Linked DNA regions of Homo sapiens. The protein of the gene in region 1 interacts with the protein of each later gene in a biochemical or structural test. Each region holds a gene or a part of one and is shown in the gene's direction. Other genes may lie near its edges.

Evidence for each region.
Region 2: the proteins of PKM (region 1) and CDC25A form a complex in vitro, tested with the Homo sapiens proteins (one study listed by BioGRID).
Region 3: the proteins of PKM (region 1) and DAPK1 form a complex in vitro, tested with the Homo sapiens proteins (one study listed by IntAct).

The regions. Positions count from the first base shown.
Region 1 is NC_000015.10:72,214,177-72,221,202, reverse strand, and holds part of PKM (pyruvate kinase PKM), read left to right. Parts: coding exon of another isoform or gene 1-35; intron 36-2,092; coding exon of another isoform or gene 2,093-2,105; coding exon 2,106-2,259; intron 2,260-3,702; coding exon 3,703-3,794; intron 3,795-7,026. UniProt on the Homo sapiens protein: Catalyzes the final rate-limiting step of glycolysis by mediating the transfer of a phosphoryl group from phosphoenolpyruvate (PEP) to ADP, generating ATP.
Region 2 is NC_000003.12:48,164,406-48,171,431, reverse strand, and holds part of CDC25A (M-phase inducer phosphatase 1), read left to right. Parts: intron 1-3,487; coding exon 3,488-3,586; intron 3,587-5,538; coding exon 5,539-5,601; intron 5,602-5,697; coding exon 5,698-5,796; intron 5,797-6,994; coding exon 6,995-7,026. UniProt on the Homo sapiens protein: Tyrosine protein phosphatase which functions as a dosage-dependent inducer of mitotic progression. Directly dephosphorylates CDK1 and stimulates its kinase activity. Also dephosphorylates CDK2 in complex with cyclin-E, in vitro.
Region 3 is NC_000009.12:87,633,853-87,640,878, forward strand, and holds part of DAPK1 (death-associated protein kinase 1), read left to right. Parts: intron 1-4,090; coding exon 4,091-4,229; intron 4,230-5,501; coding exon 5,502-5,631; intron 5,632-5,797; coding exon 5,798-5,846; intron 5,847-5,936; coding exon 5,937-5,963; intron 5,964-6,445; coding exon 6,446-6,598; intron 6,599-6,949; coding exon 6,950-6,995; intron 6,996-7,026. UniProt on the Homo sapiens protein: Calcium/calmodulin-dependent serine/threonine kinase involved in multiple cellular signaling pathways that trigger cell survival, apoptosis, and autophagy.

The DNA.
Region 1 (7,026 bases):
TATGTCACCGGAAGCCCAACCCCAGAGAACCAAAGGTATGACCTGATATTCAGTGGCCCCAGCCAGGTCTTTACAGGAAGACCCTCATATCTCAGGTCTAAGAAGAGCCAGCTGATGGTTTTTAAAAAGAGTGGAATTAGTTACTCCAACCCACTTATTCAGATCTTATTTTGTTCACAATACAGTCCCTAGATTGTAGGCCCATTGGAGGCCACAGCAAAGCCTTTGTGTTCCAGTTGGCCTGATGTGCCATCTCTCAGTAATGTTCCCTTAACAGCCAGACTTCCCTAAGCCCAGCTGGGAGCTCTGAAGGTATGCGAGCCCTCCCTCAACCATGAGTGTAGGGAAAGGGACCAGGGGCCCCAGGCTTTCCTGTCAGTAATGCAGAAGTTCCTCAGATTTAGGGAAGGGGGAGCAGAGGCATAACTTTGATTCTGACAAAGAGGCATTCAGAGAGACTGAAAGGTCATTTAACAAACACTGGAATGCTTCCACATACTAGGTGCTAGGAGATACAAAACCATATAGGTCCTGGAAGGGAGGATTGATTTTTTCATTTTGGTACGTAGTAGATATTAGGGGCTTAGGAAATACACATCGAAATGAAGAGTGCATTTGCCATGTTGAACCGTTAGCCGGTATCTTATTTCCCCATTTTAAAAGTTTTAGAATCTGTGGTTGAGGACTTGTGGCCATCAGTTTTCCATAGCCAACAGACTGTTCACTACTGCCTTCAGAGCTCCTTGGACCTCAGCGGGCCTTCTTTGGAGATGGCAGAGATGGATTTAGATGTATACTCTACTCGAGCCACCCAGAGAGCCCACAAAGTCAGAGATGGAACAGGGTAAAGGAGTAAGGGTCATATGTGTGAGATGCCTTGATTTGGAACTTTGAGATTTAGGATGAGGTGGGGAAGGGCTAAAGAGGAGCTTGTTCCTGAGCCTTGCTTGGCCGAAGCATTTAGGCTCAAGCGTTTTAGAAAGAGTAGCCCTTGGTCTGAGAACTCAAGGAAACAGCTTTCTGATGAGACGTGTAGCAAGCTTCTGGTTCACATCCTTACCTGATAGTTCTTCAAACACTGCCTGGTCTGGTTCACATCCTTACCTGATAGTTATTCAAACACTGCCTGGAAGCTTCTCCTGAGTTTTTGTCTCTAATCAGCTAACTAACAGGCTGAGTGAGTTTAGTTGTAAGTCATTAATGAAGAAAGCAAAGGTTGGGGCCATTGTCAGGGTTGTGACCTGGGCTAGTTAATTACCTGGAACTGATGGTCTGTGTTACAGAGTGGTGGTATACTTGTCAGGCTTAGAAAAGAAATCAGGATGTGTATCAAAAATCATTTGGGGAAAAGATTTGACCAGCAACTTTAATTTCTCTATGTTTGCAACTATCCTGTTAATGTAGTTGTGATAATTTCAGAATTATACCAGTGCCCTTATGTTATCCTTGCTTTGCAAATTGCAAATTGCTTTGCGTGTCCTGACATCCTTCTGGCCAACAGTAGATGTGGTTTTAGGTTTAGACTCCTGGGATGGAAGCTTTTGCATTCAGGGGAATGACTTTGGGTTTGGGTGAGGATTGTAAAGAGGCAATATGGGTGCCCCACGACAAAGCAGCTATTTGTAGCTTTGTGACAGCTTGACATGCAGAGATCTAGGCTTATCAAGGCACTAAGCTAGGAGTCAGTTGTTTGTATCACTGGAAGATTGGTTACAACTTCCTTCATTGGAAGCTCCTTCAGTGCATGTTAAATGATGTTATTTATAGATAGGGTGGTGAGAAAGCTGTCTAGGTAGATGTCAGTCAGCCCAGTGTAAGAGAGACCTGCTTACTGTGGGTGCTTGGGACTATGTGGAGTGGGTGGGAGGTTTTAACTTGTTCAGTAAGGTCCTTTCCATTGTTCACAATCTGGTGAACCCTTTTTCTAACATGAGGAGCACCCACATAACCAGATCATGTCTGGCTTCCCTGTGGCTTGTGTACAAAGCGTGCTTATTGAGTTAATGTGTAAGCAGGAGACAGCCTTCTGTGCTAAATGGTATATTAACCACTTCTCAGTCTTACCACTCTCTTTCAATTTGTCTCGACCCAGGACCTCAGCAGCCATGTCGAAGCCCCATAGTGAAGCCGGGACTGCCTTCATTCAGACCCAGCAGCTGCACGCAGCCATGGCTGACACATTCCTGGAGCACATGTGCCGCCTGGACATTGATTCACCACCCATCACAGCCCGGAACACTGGCATCATCTGTACCATTGGTGAGTGGGTGTGCCCCTTCCCCCAAAAAAGGGCTTCATGGGCAGTGACCTTTCTCTCCTGAAAAGAGTAACTAAATGTCCTAACAAACCTAGGTGCTACATGGGATACTACACAGATTCTTATGAAAGGACTCAGGTCATAGGAAGTTGCAGTAAAGAATTAGTATGTGCATAGGATGGCAAATACAGTTAATAAGAGAGTATTAGACATTTCAAAATTGCTAAGATGGCGAGGTATGGTGGCTCCCAGCACTTTGGGAGGCCAACGTGGGAGGATTGCCTGAGCCTCGAAATTTGAGACCAGCCTGAGCAACTTAGACCCTGTCTCTCCAAAAAGTGAAAAAAAAAAAAAAAAAATTAGCTGGGCATGGTGGCATGCACCTGTAGTTCTGGCTACATGGGAGGCTGAGACAAAGATCACTTGAGTCCAGGAGATTGAAGTTGCAGTGAGCCATGATCACACCACTGCACTCCAGTCTAGGCAACAGAGCGAGATCCTGTCTTAAGAAAAAAAAATTGTCCGGGCGCAGTGGCACATGCCTGTAATCCAGCACTTCGGGAGGCTGAGGCAGGTGGATCACCTGAGGTCAGGAGTTCGAGACCAGCCTGGCCAACATGGTGAAATCCCATCTCTACTAAAAATACAAAAAAATTAGCCGGGGGTGGTGGCGGGTACCTATAATCCCAGCTACTTGGGAGGCTGAGGCAGGAGAATTGCTTGAACCTGGGAGGCGGAGGTTGCAGTGAGCTGAGATCTGACCATTGCACTCCAGCCTTGGCAACAAGAACGAAACTCTGCCTCAAAAAAAAAAGGAAGAAAAAAGAAAAAAACATCGCTAAGAGTAAATTTCAAATGTTCTCACCACAAAAATGTTAAGTATTTGAAGTCATGGATATGTTAACTAACCTGATTTAATTATTCCACATTGTATCCAAACTGTATGTATTGGATTACATAACTTTGTAACCCAAATTATAAATTACCAGTTTATAATAAAAAATAATTTGTTGCAAAAAGAATCCATATGGTTTAGGTTTTATGCTATAGGCAAAATTTAGAAGATGTTTTCCTTAGCAGGTCTTTGTAGGAGCAACTTAAAGACCTAGGAAAGATCTTTCTAACATGTTCTGTGCTACCAAGATTCTGTGGTTGGACATCTGGCTGGGTTTCAGTGAGGGTGGAGAAGGCTGGCCAAGTCTTAACCTAGGCTTTTCTGATACAGTGGGAGCCTGCAGAACTTGAAGGAAATGGTCGAAGTGTCCCAGTAGATCAAGAAAGTAAGCTGGCACGGTAGTAGCCTTCCATGCACTTTTTAAAGACTTTTGAGCTATTTGGGAGAGGAAAAGTTTTCAGGGAAAAAAATTCTTTAAACTTAAGCAAACTTAAATGTTTTTCCTTCTTTGAATAATTAATACTTGTGGCTTTAAAACTTTTCCTAATAGGCCCAGCTTCCCGATCAGTGGAGACGTTGAAGGAGATGATTAAGTCTGGAATGAATGTGGCTCGTCTGAACTTCTCTCATGGAACTCATGAGGTGAGCTGTGGCTGGACCCTATGGCCATTGTGATGGCCTGTAGGAAACAGGGAGGGGGTGCAGTGTTCGTTTAGCCACAGTGGACTAGACAAGGATGAGTCTGAGTTTCACAGTCAGTGTGAAGTTTGTCTTTACTAGCCCATCCCTACTCTCCTTCCCTCTTGTCCTGACAAAGCAACTGGCTGAGTCTCTTTTAGCAAAAAGGACCCCCTTTGTTGCTGGCTGTGGTTCTCCCACACACCTCTCCTACCCTTAGCTTTTACAAAGGAAGATATGGAAAGGTTCTACTGGAAAACCCTCTAAGCCTTAGGTGTCCTGGCCACAGCGCTTGACTCTCCTGTCCCAGGGTTTCTGCTTCACCTTGTGTTGCCATGGTAAACCATCTAGCAGATTGATTCTAGCTTAGAACCAAAATAACTGGGCAGGTCCATGAGAACGGTTTCCACTATTCTAAGTTTTGAGGGACTGAGCCTAATGCATAAGCACTATCTGGGGTGTAATACCCCACTTCCTCAGCACTGTATTCTCAGCCTGTGCCTTCCCAGGGGTTCTGGTACATTAAAATAACACCAGTTAGCACTCTTCCCCAGGAGCCTAGTAGGACTGTATTTGTGCTGGGCTCTTTATTAGCTGGCTTTACCTATGGACAGAGGCCTTGCCCAGGAGCCAGGTAGCAGCTGTTGGGATGGCTCCATTCCTGCCTCCATTGCCAGATTTAGAATTAACCCATTCTGAGGAGCTTGGGGTTCCCTGAGGTACCATGACTTATTTATTTTTTTATTTTATAAAACAAAATTTTGCTCTGTCATCCAGGCTGGACTGCAGTGGTATGATTATGGCTAACTGGATCCTTGACCTCCCAGGTTCAAGTGATCCTCTTGCCTCAGCCTCCCGAGTAGCTGGGAATACAGGCATGCACCACCACACCTGGCTAATTTAAAAATTTTTTTGGGGGAAATGAGGTCTCACTATATTGCCTTGGCTGGTCTCAAACTCCTGGGCTCAAGTGATTCTCTCAAATGTTGGGATTACAGGAATGAGCTACCATGCTCAGCCTGGGATTGTGCCTTTTTAAAACCTTCAGACTTAACCATAGGTTTCCCATAGATCATGGGATTTCGTAATGGCATTGATAAGAGGAATTACAGAAGAGGCAAACTTTGCACCTGTCTTGGCTTCTGTATTTCCTGTTGAGAGTAAAGAAAATGCTATCCTGTAAGGCCAATTGCCTTACAGAGGTTGCCCTCTGGCATTTGGAAGTTGGTATTAAGTTTGGACTAAAAATAAAGCCTCAGGAAATGCAATCCAAGAGTGAATTCCTCCTTTTGGGAAACACAAGACTCTTCATCATAGATTCCCTAACCTGTGTTCATAAACAGCCTATGGCCTGGCTAGTGGCTGGCCCTTAAATGTCATGGGGACCTGACCAAGTCCAGCAGACATACCATGTAGGTTAAGACATGTCCCTGTACCTTTTGGAAAATTCTGTAGTTTTCCAAAAGCAAGGGGTCCTTAGCAGGAGTCACCGAGAATTACTTGTTAGAGAATTAAGTGTTAGCTTAGCTTAGAGAGAGCTGAAGACAATGCTGGAGGTCTGTTCGCTGTTGATCCCTGCTGCTGTAGTCTGCCATGGGCTCCTGCATTCAGGGGAAGGAGCAGAAATAGATTTTTAAGAAGTTGACCTTTAAGTAGGCTTTATGGTTCCTTCATCCAGTAAAATAACACCACATAGCTCTAACATGGCAAGGGCGAGTGATACCTGCCACACCTGCTGGATGAGAGCTGGCTCCGATTTTGGTATTTTAAACTTTAAGAGGCTTTTGGAGATTATCTCTACTTTCACTCCTATTCCCAGATTATAATTAAGATTTATTTTTTATTTTTTATCTATTTATTTTTTAAAGATGTCCCTCTTGTGTGTTCATTTTGAAGTTTTAGACCAAGATGAGGTTGTGTGTGGGCTCAGCTTGGAAACTGATCTGAAATTATTCTAATTTATATAATGTAATGTAAACAGTTTCAGCCTTACCATACGTCAGGGCTATCGTTTCATGTGCACCTTTGACTAGGGGCTGGGGCGTACTTTTCCAGTTTCTGACTATTTTAAATGCTCTTCTGAGCAGAACGTTGAGATTACTGTCTTCCCTCTCACTCTGACAGAGGGACATCAAATGTCTGCATCTGATCTTTTAACAGCTTTTTTTTTTTGAGACAGAATCTTGCTCTGTTGCCCAGGCTGGAGTGCACTGGCACAATCTCTGCTCACCACAACCTCTGCCTCCCAGGTTCAAGCAATTCTCATACCTCAGCCTCCTGAGTAGCTGGGATTACAGACCTGTGCCACCACGCCCAGCTAATTTTTTTATATTTTTAGTAGAGACGGGGTTTCGCCATGTTGGCCAGGCTGGTCTTGAACTTGTGACCTCAGGTGATCCGACTGCCTCGGCCTCCTAAAGGCGTGAGCCACCACGCCCAGCCCTCTTTTAACAGCTTTGGCAACTAGTCTTCAGCCCTCACTTTTGGCAGTTCACATGGGCAAGATGCATTCTTGCTGAACATGTGGTTCCATATGCCATGTTTTCCAGATTTATTTATTTATTTATTTATTTATTTAGAGAGGGAGTCTCGCTCTGTCATCCAGGCTGGAGTGCAGTGGCACGATCTTGGCTCACTGCAACCTCTGCCTCCTGGGTTCAAGAGATTCTTCTGCCTCAGCCTCCTAAGTATCTGAGATTACAGGCACCTGCCACCACACCCGACTAATTTTTGTATTTTAGTAGAGACTTGGTTTCACCTTGTTGGCCAGGCTGATCTCGAATTCCTGACCTCAAGTGATCCATCCGCCTTGGCCTCCCAAATTGCTGGGATTACAGGCGTGAGCCACCACACCTGGCCTAGAAATAATGACTTTTAAACAACCTAAATGTAGAGCCTTCCACAGGACAGCATTGATGGATGCTTTACCACATAACATCCCAATAAAGCCACAGCTGAAGTGGAAGACTCAGTACACCTCCCAGAGATGCTCTAAGAGATTATGATATATGACATAGATTTGAATAATATACCTAATAATTGGTATGTTTATAATATATGGTTTTACATCCCCAAGACCAAAAATGCATGTTTGCATGAAACACTCATGGTTACAAAAATATATTAGGCCACCAAAAAAACCCCCACGTTTCATAAAGTAGAAATTATACAGACACATTCTCTGATAAAATTTTTT
Region 2 (7,026 bases), on another chromosome or scaffold:
TCCAGCCTGGGTGATAGAGTGAGATTTCATCTCAAAAAAAAAAAAAAAAGAATATTCATTTTCTTTTTCTTTCTTTTTGAGACACGCTGGAGTGCAGTGGCAGGATCTTGGCTCACGGCAACCTCCGCCTCCCCAGTTCAAGCAAGTCTCTGCCTCAGCCTCCTGAGTAGCTGGGATTACAGGTGCCCACTGCCACGCCTGGCTAATTTTTTTTGTATTTTTAGTAGAGGCGGAGTTTCACCAAGTTGGCCAGGCTGGTCTTGAACTCCTGACCTCAGGTGATATATCCGCCTTGGCCTCCCAAAGTGCTGGGGTTACAGGTGTGAGCCACTGTGCCCGGCCAGAATATTCATTTTCTTTTACCGTAATAGAGATTGACCTTTTTATTTCCATATTTGTAAAACTTTTTTTGGATAAAATAATACTGTTAATAATTATTTTGTATATATATTGGCCCTCATGTTTTGGTTTATTTTCATATATTTTAATTTTTAGTATTTTAAATTCCATTGTGGAGAAAATGTCAAGCATTGCTAGAGTACAGTTATCATACCTGTGATATTGTGAAATATATATTTAGTCTTCTTCCCCTTCTGTCATATAACTCCTAAAATCTTTGGAATATCCAAGGTCATATCTTTTTGTATACTAATGATTGATAGCTTCAGGGTGGGACTGGTCACTGGAAAGACAGAGACATGATTAGAGGTTGGAACTTTCAGCCCCACCCTCCAATATCTACGGAAAGGAGAGGGGCTAAAGGTCAAGTTGATCACTCATGGCCAATGGTTTAATCAATCATTTCTATGTAATGAAGCCTCCCTAAAACCTTGAAAGGACAGGGTTCAGAGAGCTTCTGGATAGCTGAACACATGGAGGTTCCTGGAGGTTGGGGCACCCAAGGAGAGCATGGCAGCTCCATGTCCCTTCTCCCATACCTCACCCTATGCATGTCTTCTTCTATATCCTTTGAATATCCTTCATAATAAACTGGTAAATGTGTTTTCTTGAGTTCTGTGAGCCACTTCTAGCAAATTAAACCCAAAGAAGGGGTCATGGGAACCCCTACTTAAAGCTGGTGGTCGTAGATCAGAAGATCCAGAGGCCCAACTGGTGTCTGAAGGGTGGTGTGGTTTTGAGGACTGGGCCCTCAACTTCCTGATCTGACGCTCTGCAGGTAGATAGTGTCAGAATTGAATTGGACGGCACCCAGCTATTTTCCACTGCAGAACTGCTTGCTTGCTTGCTTGCTTGCTGGTAGGGAGAAATCCCCTCATATCTGGGGGTAACAGCACTTCTGTCTTCTGTTGCTGTTGAGTGAGGGAATAAGAAAAATCACTTTGAGTTTGTGGGGTGTTTTCCTCACACAAACATATCATACAGGGCTAAATTTCTGGGTGTTTTTTTGTTTGTTTTTTTTTTTGAGACCAAGTCTCGCTCTGTCGCCCAGACTGGAGTGCCATGGGTCGATCTCTGCTCACTGCAACCTCCGCCTCTCAGGTTCCAGCAATTCTCCCGCCTCAGCCTCCCAAGTAGCTGGGACTACAGGCGCCCACCACCACGCCTGGCTAATTTTTTATATTTTTAGTAGAGACGGGGTTTCACCATGTTGGCAAGGCTGGTCTCGAACCCCTGACATCAAGTGATCCACTCACCTCGGCCTCCCAAAGTGCTGGGATTACAGGCATGAGCCACCACGCCCGGCAGAGCTAAATTTCTTACTATCAAATGTCAAATATCCAGTCTGGGTTCAGTTTTCCCCAGTTGTCTCCTAAGTACTTTTACAGTTTATTTGTTAAAATCTGGATCCAAATAAAGTCTATACACTGTAGTTGGTCAATAGGTCTCTTACTCTTCAGATTTCAGTGCTCCATCTGTTTCCCTCTTGCATATTTTTATTTGTTGAAGAGCTCAAGTCATTTGTCCTGCAAAGGTTCCCACAGTCCTGTGGGGTCTTCAGACATTGTCTTCTATCCCCTATATTGCCTTAACCTAACTCTGGAAAGGATGGATTGAATTCCAGTTCTATTTGTTTGGCAAGAATATCACATAGGTGATTTTGTCTACTTTGATCAGGAAGTATAATGTGCCAGGCAGCCATTGGTGATTGCTGCCCAGATTTTTTACTTCATTTCACCAGGGTTTCAGAAAGATGATACTGCAGTTTTTACATTCTTTCCTCATTAATTAGCTAGAATATATCTATAAAGAGAAACTTACACTCATCAAACACTGTGGTTACCCTTGGGAAAGGCAGGATGAATATTGGATCTCTTTATTTGCCAGTTTCCAAATAATGCCCTACCAAGCATCTTCCAAAGTTGAAAGCAAGACTTATAGTTGTTTTTCAATAATAATCAGGAATTCATGGGTTAAAACATTTAATGTGTTTCTGTGTATTACAAGTATTATCCTTTTACTCAAATTATCCCCTTTTTAACAGCTGGCTTCCTCTTCTCATTGAATAAAGCTAAGACGTAGGCCGGGCGCGGTGGCTCACACCTGTAATCCCAGCACTTTGGGAGGCCAAGGCAGGCAGATCACCTGAGGCCAGGAGTTCAAGACCATCTGGCCAACATGGTGAAACCCCGTCTCTACTAAAAATACAAAAATTAGCTGGGCGTGGTGGCGCACACCTATAGTCTCAGCTGCTCTGGAGGCTGCGGCAGAATCGCTTGAACCTGGGAGGCAGAGGTTACAGTGAGCCAAGATCACTGTACTCCAGCCTGCACTCCACTCCTGTACTCCACTGCACTCCAGCCTGAGCGACAGAGCGAGACTCTGTCTTTTTAAAAAAAAAAAAAAAAAAAAGTTAAGACATACTTTTTCTAAACTTAATCCTAGTTTTAACCCCCCTTGTTTCTTTCTCTTTTTCTGGAGATAGTTTCAGTCTGTCACCCAGGCTGGAGTGCAGTGGCACCATCACCACTTGCTGTAGCCTCGACCTCCCCAGGCTCAGGTGATCCTCCCACTTCAGCCTCCCAAGTAGCTGGGACTACAGGCACACACCACCATGCCCAGCTTGTGTGTGTGTGTGTGTGTGTGTGTGTGTGTGTGTGTGTGTGTGTGTGGACAGGGTCTTGCTCTTTGATCTGGTCTGGAACTCCTGGGCTCAAGCGATTCACCTGCCTTGCCCAGGCTGGTCTGGAACTCCTGGGCTCAAGTGAGTAACCCACCTTGGCCTCCCAAAGTGCTGGGATTACAGGCATGAGCCAAACCACCTGCACCCCCTTTTTTTTTTTTTTTTTTTAAGGAAGGAAGGAAAACTTAGTTTCAGAGCAATTCGGTTAGACACTGGAATAATAGGAGACCTAGTCAATAACCCACATCTGTTTTTGTTCACTCCAGATTCAATAAAATAAAATAAAAACTTCTTACTAAATGTAGGCATTAACATTTTAGTCTCCTCGAGACATGCTCCAAGTGAATGTTTTCGGAAGTTCCATTCAGAACCCTTGTCTCATTCTCTACCTTTGATTTGTTACAGACTCTTCATCAGTCTTTATCCCTGGCATCTTCCCCCAAAGGAACCATTGAGAACATTTTGGACAATGACCCAAGGGACCTTATAGGAGACTTCTCCAAGGTAATTGCAAGCAGAGCTGCTCTGGCAAGTGTAGGAGGGAGTGTGGGTATTTAGAATCCCACTCAGCCTGTCTCCCTCCCCAGGGTGGTTCCTGGCATACCTCCAAAAGGACACAGTTAAAAGAATGTTAAAGGTAGGGAAGCAAACTTAGTTTCTCATGATCAGGTATATGTTGGTTTCTGAGACTGTAGATATCACTATAGCTGATGGGCAGTTTTAGGTAGGGAGCTGTCCACCAACCACCTTGATTGTAACCCAAAGACTAGGCTCTCTGGGAACTGTGTTATTATAAAAATAGTAATTAGCAGGATAGTGTACAGCAGAAATAAATCTGTAGCCACACTACAAGTCTGCATGTTGAAAGGTTATCTTAGAAGGTCTGGGATTGAGACTGAATTTCTCCGTTCAGAGAAGCTTGGCCATTGAGGGAAAAGACCCTCCAGGAAGTCTAGAGGAAGATCTTCTAATAGCCTGATATACTACATGAAGGCTTGGCTGCAGTAAAATACAAGGCTAGGACAGGGAATGTGTCAATAGCAGCTTCTTTAATCACATTTTGACTTGAAGGTTACCAGATCAATGTTTTATTCATTAATTTAGTTAACATTTATTGAAGCACTTATGTGTTAGGCAGAGATTCCAAAATGAGATACAGTTCCTTCCCTCAAAGAATTTAGCATGTGGTTGGAGAGGTGAGACGTGAACTACATGTACCACATGGTAGACTGAAATAAATTTTAGTGAGGTGTAAACATAAACAGCATGCCGTGAGAAGTAAAAGGGTTTATCTTGGCTAGGGGGTTGGGGAACGTCTGGGGTTGGGCCGTTGATATTTCAGCCCAAATGGGTTTTGAAGGAACGGAGAATGAAGAGAACAAGCAAAGATCCAGCTGTATCCTCAGTTTTGGAACCTTCTCTTGTTTGGCAGGGAGAGATGTGGTCTTACTATGTTGCTCAGGCTGTAGTGCAGTGGCTATTCGCACATGCTATCATAGTACACTGTAGCCTCAAACTTATGGCCTCAAGTGCTCCCCCTGCCTCAGCCTCCCAAGTAGCTGGGACTACAGGCATGCACCACCACACTCAGTGGAATTTTCAACTTGAATTGAGGCCTGGTTATATTTGTCTTAATGGGCCTATGCATGGGGATAGATGAACTCTTGGCTCAGCCAGTCACCCTAATGAGTAATTGCTAATGTGTGCATCTTCCTCCTCAAGGCTGGGCTAGGTCTCTTTTTTTCCTATCCCCAGTGCCTGGCACCATGCTGGACATAGCAGGTGCTCAGTAAATGAGTGAAATCTGTATGTTTAAGTGCTATTCGCAGTCTAACTACTGACGTGTGGATTCTTGACAAAAGCAGGAGGAAAATGAGATTACCTGAGGTTTCTTTATTTAAATCTGCCTTACTAGCTAGGTAACCTTGGATAAGGTGCTCAAAATGGGGATAATATACCTCATTGGTTTGTGTGAAAATTAAATGTCAGGATGTTAATGAAGTAACTAGAAGAGTAACTAGTGTGTACTAACTAATGTTTGTTTGCTTGTTTGTTTGTTTGTTTTTTGAGAGGGAGTCTTGCTCTGTCACCCAGGCTGGAGTGCAGTGGTGCAATCTCAGCTCACTGCAACCTCCGCCTCCTGGATTCAAGCGATTTTCCCACTCCAGCCTTCCGAGTAGCTGGGACTATAGGTGCATGCTAACGCCCGGCTAATTTTTGTATTTTTAAAAGAGTTGGGGTTTCACCATGTTGGCCAGGCTTGTCTCGAACTCCTGACCTCAGGTGATCCACTAGCCTCGGCCTCCCAAAGTGCTGGGATTACAGGTGTGAGCCACCGTGCCTGGCCATTAATGTTTGTTTTTTAAAAGATGCCTCCTACCAGCCAGACAAAACAGTATAAGTGTGAATAATATATAGGCTTTCAGATTCTCTAAGTATCTTTTTTTCTTTTTAAGGGTTATCTCTTTCATACAGTTGCTGGGAAACATCAGGATTTAAAATACATCTCTCCAGAAATTGTAAGTCCATCCTTTTGAAACCCACCACACATCGGGTACTTGAATCTAGTTTTCCCTGACGGTCAAAGTTGATTCTCCCTAATTTTCTCTCAACAGATGGCATCTGTTTTGAATGGCAAGTTTGCCAACCTCATTAAAGAGTTTGTTATCATCGACTGTCGATACCCATATGAATACGAGGGAGGCCACATCAAGGTATGGATTCCTGAGACTTGCTGTAGAAGGAGCCCTAAACAGGATCTGTGGTTTTAAAGTGGGGAGGACAGTGACACCTGGCCACTTAGCTCATATGCTAGTTGTTAGAATTTTGAAACAATACAGTGAGTGTGGAAGGCATTTGATTCCGGGTGCTCTTAACGAATGTTCCCTTGTCTGCAATACTCTCTACCACCTTGTGCACAGTTATTCTTCATGTTTGTCCCTCACACCATCATTATCAAGGACACTTGTAGGAGGTACCCACTGATGTTTAAGTCATTCGGGGGACAAGAATGGGTTTCATAGCATTTAAGAGGCTTGGGTACCAATGTCTGAGCACCCCAGGGCTCCTGATGAGGAGAAGACCATCTCTGGCAACATGTCCTGGTGTCTGTGCCAGGCCTAGTGATGCCTCCAAAGTTGATTGTTCAGCAAGCTGCCTGGTGGAGGGGCGTGTTGGGACACACGTTCCCAAGAAGAAAGGAACTGATTTTGCCATTTTAATCTTTTTTTTTTTTTTTTTTTGAGACAGAGTCCGCTCTGTCGCCAGGCTGGAGTGCAGTGGCATGATCTCGGATCACCACAACCTCTGCCTCCTGGGTTCAAGCAATTCTCCTGCCTCAGCCTTCCAAGTAGCTGGGACTACAGGTGCACGCTGCCACGCCCGGCTAATTTTTTTTTTTTTTTAGTAGAGACGGGGTTTCACCATGTTGCCCGGGCTGGTCTCAAACTCCTGAGCTCAGGCAAACCGCCCGCCTCAGCCTCCCAAAGTGCTAGGATTACAGGCATGAGCCACGGCGCCTGGCCTGCCATTTTAATGTTTTACCCGATTAATAGTGTTTAAATATAGTAAGGAGGTACTTTAAATACGATGTTACTGTTTGCCATTGTCTTGTGGCTTTTGAAAATCCCCAAATTTATAAAACTACCTATAAAGTGTACCATTGTCATATTTGAATTGCCCATTTCCAGTCCCCATGTGCATTACTGTATGATGAACGTGTACGGACCCACAAAGCTCCATTGAGATACAGGTGCCAAATGGTCTACTGGGCTATTCAGCTAGAAGAACTGCAAAAATCACAAACTGGTCTTGTGGACTTAAAGATCACTCTTGATGAATCATTACATCTTGCTGAATCATTACTTCATGTGTGAAACGTGCAGGTTCCAAGGGTCTCTGTTGTCTTCACAGGGTGCAGTGAACTTGCACATGGAAGAAGAGGT
Region 3 (7,026 bases), on another chromosome or scaffold:
AAGCAGACTCTGAGATGGAGAAGAGTGTGCATGGTGTTTATTAAGAACTATACTTAGGATCAAGATTTGGAGAAGAGGAGAAGGGGGCAGGAATGGGTTTAGTGGCAGCCCCAGTTGGCCAACAGGGAGTTCTGGGGCCAGAATGACCCTTGAGAGTTGCCCCAGGTTGGGCTGTGATGACCTAGTCTTTATATCAGGGATCAGCAAGTTATGGCCTATAGGCCAAACCCAGGTTGCCACCTATTTTTTAACTAAAGTTTTATTGGAACACAGCCACACCCATCATGTACATGTCATCTGTGGCTGCTTTCATGATACATTAGCAGAGCTGAGTAGTTGGGACAGACTGCAAGGCTGGCAAAGCCTAAAATATTTAGGATCTGCCCTTGATGGAAGTTTGGCAGGCCCTGTTATGTTCCCTCATTGATCAGTTGCTGAATGGACAGTCTCTGACCTCTGTGGCCTCGGCTGCGCTGGAGGGTCCCCTTCTAAGGTGCCTTCCTTGCTCGAGGCTCCTTGGCCTTGTTCTCCAAGGACATCTCTTCTTCCTGGGTTTCTCCACGTGGCACAGTGGTTTGGCATCGTCGTACTTCTTGCATCTTACCTGAGGGCTTCAGGAGGTGGGACCTGGAGGCCCCCAGTCCATGAAAAGCCACAGCAGGGCTGGCAAAATCACTTGTGCCATTGGTCAAAGTGATCATGGGGCCTGCCCAGATTCAAGAGATGGAGCCACAGATGCCGCCCACTGCCTGAAGGAGGATGGCACAATCACGGTGCAGAAGAGCATGAGGATGAGATGCTGTCAGACCGTCTTCGGAAAAATGTGGAACACCATGGCAGGCCAGGTGGCTGCTCGGCAGTGCCGTGTCAATCCCAGCTCACCCAGGTCACCGCTGCAGTGCCTGTCCCTCCCCAACTCCACCCACGGTCCCTGACATCACGTGGGGAGGGAGTTTGAGATGGCCATGGTGGGAATGTGACACCTCGGGAATGGGCTCTACCCACCCCAACGCCAAAGAACCTGCTGCACACCCCTGCTGCCATGGGAGGACTTCTGGTTTGAAGCCACATGGGAAGAAAGACAGCAGCATTTATTGAGCACTAAGGGTCGCTACATGTCCTGGAACCTCAGGATGACTCCGTAAGCTATGATGTTACCCTTTATTTTATAGAAGGGGAGTCAGAGGCTCAGCAAGGTTGGAGGCCCTGGCAGGATTTGAACCATGGTCCCCTCGTTTTTGCCATCCTGCCTCACAGAAGACGGAGCTGGCAGGAGAAGGAGATCCTGGGTCTGAAGAAAGCTTAGGTTGGCAGGGAGGGAGAGAAAGCTGGCCAGAGAAGAGCGGGCAAAGCCTGAGGCCAGGGCAGCATGGGGTTGCCAGAAGGCTGGACAGTGGAGTCCCTGGAAAGGACTCAGGGCCAGCAGACTGCGCCAGCTGTGTGGGTGCTGGAAGATTCACCCCAACCAGGCAGCCAAACTCCTGACGTTTCTCATTGTCTGAAAAATGCATCTCTGTACTCTAAGACAACACAAGCAGAATGCGAGTGAGGTGGGCTCGGGAGGCCCTGAAGAGGGCCACGGAGAGAAAGCCGGCGGCTGGGCACCACATTCACAGCAGAAGTTTCAGTTCCTTCCCCTCACCTTCTTCCTGGGAAGCACAGTGGTTAGGCTCAACCAATGGACCAGTTTTAGGAGGAGGAGCGGGCAGGAAGGGGCTTTCATATTGGATCCTGTAGGAAGCAGTGGTATGCTACAGGGGTGACAGTGGCCTTCTTTATAACAACACTCGTTCCCGCAAGCTGGACCTTACCCACGTGCCAGCCTTGCCAGTTACACATGTCTATTACCTTTCATCCTCATAACCTTCAAGGGAAGAGGTCTTATGACTCCTCTTTGGGGAAATGAGGCTCAAGAGAAGGGGTAACCTTCCGGGTTTCAGGGTGAGCGCGTGGCAGAAGTTAAGACTTGGACTGGATGCAGGCACTTGACTTCTCCACATCACGTGGCCACGGTGCCTGAGTCAGCCCAGTGGTGCGGGGCGCCCCAGAGAGCACAGAAGCCAGGGCTGGAGACCCAGGTGTGATGGGAGAGCTTTCTTTGGGTGAGGTTGGTTCACAATCTCCCACTTTTTCCCCCCTATAGTTGAAGGATTTTCTCTCCCCGTTGTTTGTTTTAAGAATAAGATGCAAAAGTGAGAAGCGGGAGGCCTTGCCTTGTTCCGTGGGCAGACAGTGTGGGGGCTGTGAGGCCAAGGACACCTGGGAGGGGAGAGGGTGGGGGCAGACTGCATCTCCCAAGAGCAGGGTGGGGAGTGCAGGGAAGGGTCAGGAGGAGAGCAAGGCCACTGCTGAGGCAGGGTCCATGTAGGACACCTTTCGCTTGGACTCCTGGATGTCCTGGCTGGGCCCAGGCCCTGCTGTGTCCCCTGGAGGATAGGGGAGGCCTGTGGACTGCTCACAGGAGGGTGTGGCTACCTCTGCCAGGCCCCTGGGGATAGGAGAGTCACTCCACCATCCCCGTAAACCAGTGGGAGGCCCTGCAGCAGGAGCGTGGAATTAAGACGTGGGAAAATGGTCTCAGTTTTTCAGGTGCTTGTTAAAGATGCTGAGTTTTCTGGTCACCATTCTTGGAAGCCCTCACACAGCAGATTGAAAGTGAGGCTCAGAATCTTCATTTTTAAAGCATCCTCAAATAATTCTGATACCCATGGACTCTAGACCGTGCTAAGGAAAACACTGACCTGGAGGGTGAAGGCATGTGGGATCTGAAACTTTTAAGAAAACAGCTTTTTTGTCATTCTTATCTGATCTTATGAGCACCAATTTTCTTACTCTGAATGGATGTAGATGTGGAAGGTATAATGTTTGGGGAGCGCTCTTGCCCTAAGAGAGATAATGAATACAGCAGTTTGTGCATAATTGCACTTAATTATTATGTTGTGAATATATGGTTAAACTTGATAAAGATTAACTTATAAAAACTCTTATTAAAACTTCCCTGTTATTTGCCATTCATCGCTATCGTGGAGTTTTTAGGGGAGCTTGTTCGTCCATCCACCTGATAAAGTTTTGAATGCATGCTGTGTGCCTGGCTCTGGCGGGGAGTGGGGCATACAGCAGTAGCCAATAGCTGGGGTGGGAGGTTCTGACCACTCCCCTCCACCCACTTACAGTCTGGACAGAGAAATAAACTAAAAAAATCCGCAACCAACAACATACATTTTGCTTTTTTTGTAAATGTATTCTTTTTTTTTGTTTTTTTGAGACAGTCTCGCTCTGTCACCAGGCTGAAGGGCAGTGGCACAATCTTGGCTCACTGCCACCTCCGTCTCCCAGGTTCAAGTGATTCTCCTGCCTCAGTCTCCCGAGTAGCTGAGACTACAGGCACACGTCACCATGCCCAGTTGTTTTTTGTATTTTTAGTAGAGACGGTGTTTCTCCATGTTGGCCAGGATGGTCTCGATCTCTTGACCTTGTGATCCGCCCGCCTCAGCCTCCCAAAGTGCTGGGATTACAGGTGTGAGCCATTGCGCCCAGGCTACTAAATGTGATTTTTATAAATGTGTTAGTATTTACATACAAACCAATACTAGACAAGAGAGGAAAAAACCCTTATCAGACCATATATTGTGAATTTGAGTTTTAAAGAATTAATTAAACATGCAAGTTATGAACTTTTCAGGTACTCTCTAATTGAAATAAGAAGATATACACTATAAATTCTGTACAAAGCTGGCTTGCAGATTTTTTTCTCGTCATTAGAGTTAAGACATCACCTCTAAGTATGTTTAATTAAAATGTTTTCAAGATACACTGATATTTTCTTCACAGCATTTCATCTCTGCCCCTCCTCTCATTTGTGAACACGGAACCTTAGGAAAATGGTTCCCAAGTGCTTTCAAGCACAAATGTGTCTGAATGCAGAATTGTCAACAACCTGCACAGAGAATTCTGAATCCATGCTTGGCGGTTTCAGCATAGTCTTTATGCTGTTTTCTTGTCTGAAGTTTGAGCGCACCAATAGTCTATGAGAGAAGGAATCAATATGAAACAGAGTTGTTACCAATAACCTCTGCTTCCGGGTTCTCAGCGTTGCAGGTGGCGAGCTGTTTGACTTCTTAGCTGAAAAGGAATCTTTAACTGAAGAGGAAGCAACTGAATTTCTCAAACAAATTCTTAATGGTGTTTACTACCTGCACTCCCTTCAAATCGCCCACTTTGATCTTAAGGTACGTTTCAAAGTGTAAGCCAGATAGAAGCTTGTGCAGATCACAGCCTTGGTTGTTTCTCTGCTAAGAAAAATTGAGGCATCTGAAAGAGTTACATGATTTTCCTGTACCAGTTTAACAAACAGAAATATCACTATAAATCGGCAAGCATAGGATACATGCCCCCCACTGGGATGGCTAACCTTTTTGTGGGATAGAGGCTTAATGATAATTGATTACATTCTGGAATTCTTGGTAAAGAATACAAGGGGTCTTAGGAGCCAGGTTTTTTAGTAAGGGGGCTGCTCTAGCCAGCAGCTAGTGACTGGCACTGGTTCCTTCTGTGGCTCTGGGCATGTTAAGATAGAAAATGTGTTGAGTGATGCAAAGGCGTATGGCCTGACTCTGTCACCAATAATCAAGCAAACCAAACTCAGATTGGCTAATTGGGGCATTTGCCTGGCTGGATGCAGGACGCTGTTGGAGATGAAAGGGCATGTAAGCCGTCCTCCCAGCCATGACAGAGGTGTGGTCTCTTTGGGAAGGGAAGACACGACAGGAGCAATAGGAAGTGGCAATGGTGGGAAGTTCCAGTTCAAGGCAGGAAGAGGTGGTCTGGTAAAGCAGCGCGTGCTCCATCCGAGTAGTTGATTCAGACCAGTAGAGCTGGGATAGGATTTCAGAGGAGGGAGGATTTTCCCCATTCTTCTGTAGCAGAGCTGTCAATGTCCCATTCATGTCCCTGCTGGCCCCACAAACAATGTGCAAAAGCACACACTCATATACATCCTAACAGAGGGCTTGTTGCAAATACCTGTGACTCTTCCTGGCATCTTGTTTCTGGCCCTGGGAGCTGGAAATGCAAAAGAAAAATGTCCACAGAAGCAACTGTCAGCCATGGAGGATGGAGAAATGGTGGATAAAGACCCCAGCTCCCTCCTGCTACAATTGGAATAACACTGAGTTCTCCTTTTCCTCTCCCATTCCCCCAGTTACCCCCACTTGATAGGACACCTCGTAGCAGCTTCCTTCTGTTTCCTGTATCTCCTTTCTCTACCAAGTGTTTCCTGGTGTCCCCTCCCACATAACCCACTTGCATCCGAATCCTTGTCTCAGGCCTGCTTCAGGGAGAACCTAGAGCAAGACATGTATTTTCCTGCTGTTCTCTTCCAACCACCCTTTCTTCCCTACTTTTTGGCCTTTTTTTTTTTTTTGGAGAGAAGAACTATTCTGCCATCTTGTCCTCAGCATAACATATCATAGCTTTTTATTTATCTCTCTCTTTTTTTCAAGCCTGAGAACATAATGCTTTTGGATAGAAATGTCCCCAAACCTCGGATCAAGATCATTGACTTTGGGTTGGCCCATAAAATTGACTTTGGAAATGAATTTAAAAACATATTTGGGACTCCAGAGTTTGTCGGTAAGTTTCTTTGCTCCTGTGGTCATTTACGTCTCATAAACATTATTCTGGCAAACCTCCCCTGCTAGAAGATTCTTTCCCTGCTACATGTTCCTGGTTGTTGCATGAAGATAGAATCGGTTAGTTTGCTTCCTCCCAAGCTAAATGAGTGTTTGTTTCCTCTTAGCTCCTGAGATAGTCAACTATGAACCTCTTGGTCTTGAGGCAGATATGTGGTAAGGAGTATGTCCTTGGTGTTGTTTGCTTTCTGATTTATTTGACTATTCTTCTGACATGTTTTTTTGTTTGTTTTGTGTTGTTTTTAGGAGTATCGGGGTAATAACCTATATCCTGTAAGTATCAGAATTCACAACTCATACTCTCTTCTCTTCTATGAGACCATAGGTTTAATTAACCATTAAATGTGCTGTGTTGATCTCTTCAGCTTATGCATGCTTTTGATGCAAACATATTCATTTTACACCCCCAAAACATGTTTAGTTTATACTAATTAAACATGTTCTCCTAATTTGAAATGAGTCATCAGAAACTGTAGCATAATCACTGAAAGAAAGCATAGCTGTCCATCACTGCCGAGAAAACAGGTTTCCTTTAAACTACCAGACGCTGTTCCAGATTAACTTGTTAAGTGAATCCTTTTGCCTGAAGCTGAAGCATTTGCTCCTGACAGTTAAAGCCCTATGAAATATAATCAAACTGTGACTATTCGAGCACCAGATTATAATCTTATTCCACACTCCAGATGTTATAGGAGCAAAATGACAACACCAAGGGGTCATCATTAATGTTCTATGCCCAACTTTATTTTTAACAGCCTAAGTGGGGCCTCCCCATTTCTTGGAGACACTAAGCAAGAAACGTTAGCAAATGTATCCGCTGTCAACTACGAATTTGAGGATGAATACTTCAGTAATACCAGTGCCCTAGCCAAAGATTTCATAAGAAGACTTCTGGTCAAGGATCCAAAGTGAGTGTCCACGTTCCTGAAAGGTGCTTGGCCACGGCCTCAGCCAGCCCAGAGCCTGTGTCTGTTCCATGCACAGGGCCACGTTCCTCAGACCCTGCTTGCTTCATCTGCCAAAGGGCAGCATGCCATGTGAAACGCTTCAGAAAATGCAAGCAGGGCCCTCTGCCCCCACTCAGTCAGTCCCTGCAGGCACAGTGAAATAATCACAAAAAGACCGATGTTGTTTTTGGCTTTCTTCCCTGAACTGCATTTTCCACAGTATCTGCTTGGCAGGCCCAGCCAGCATGAAAACAACCTTAGTATTTGCTGCTATGGTCACAGCATTTTTTTTCTTCTCCCCCTCCCCTCAAGGAAGAGAATGACAATTCAAGATAGTTTGCAGCATCCCTGGATCAAGGTGAGTTGCATATTACGAAACTGTTTAGATC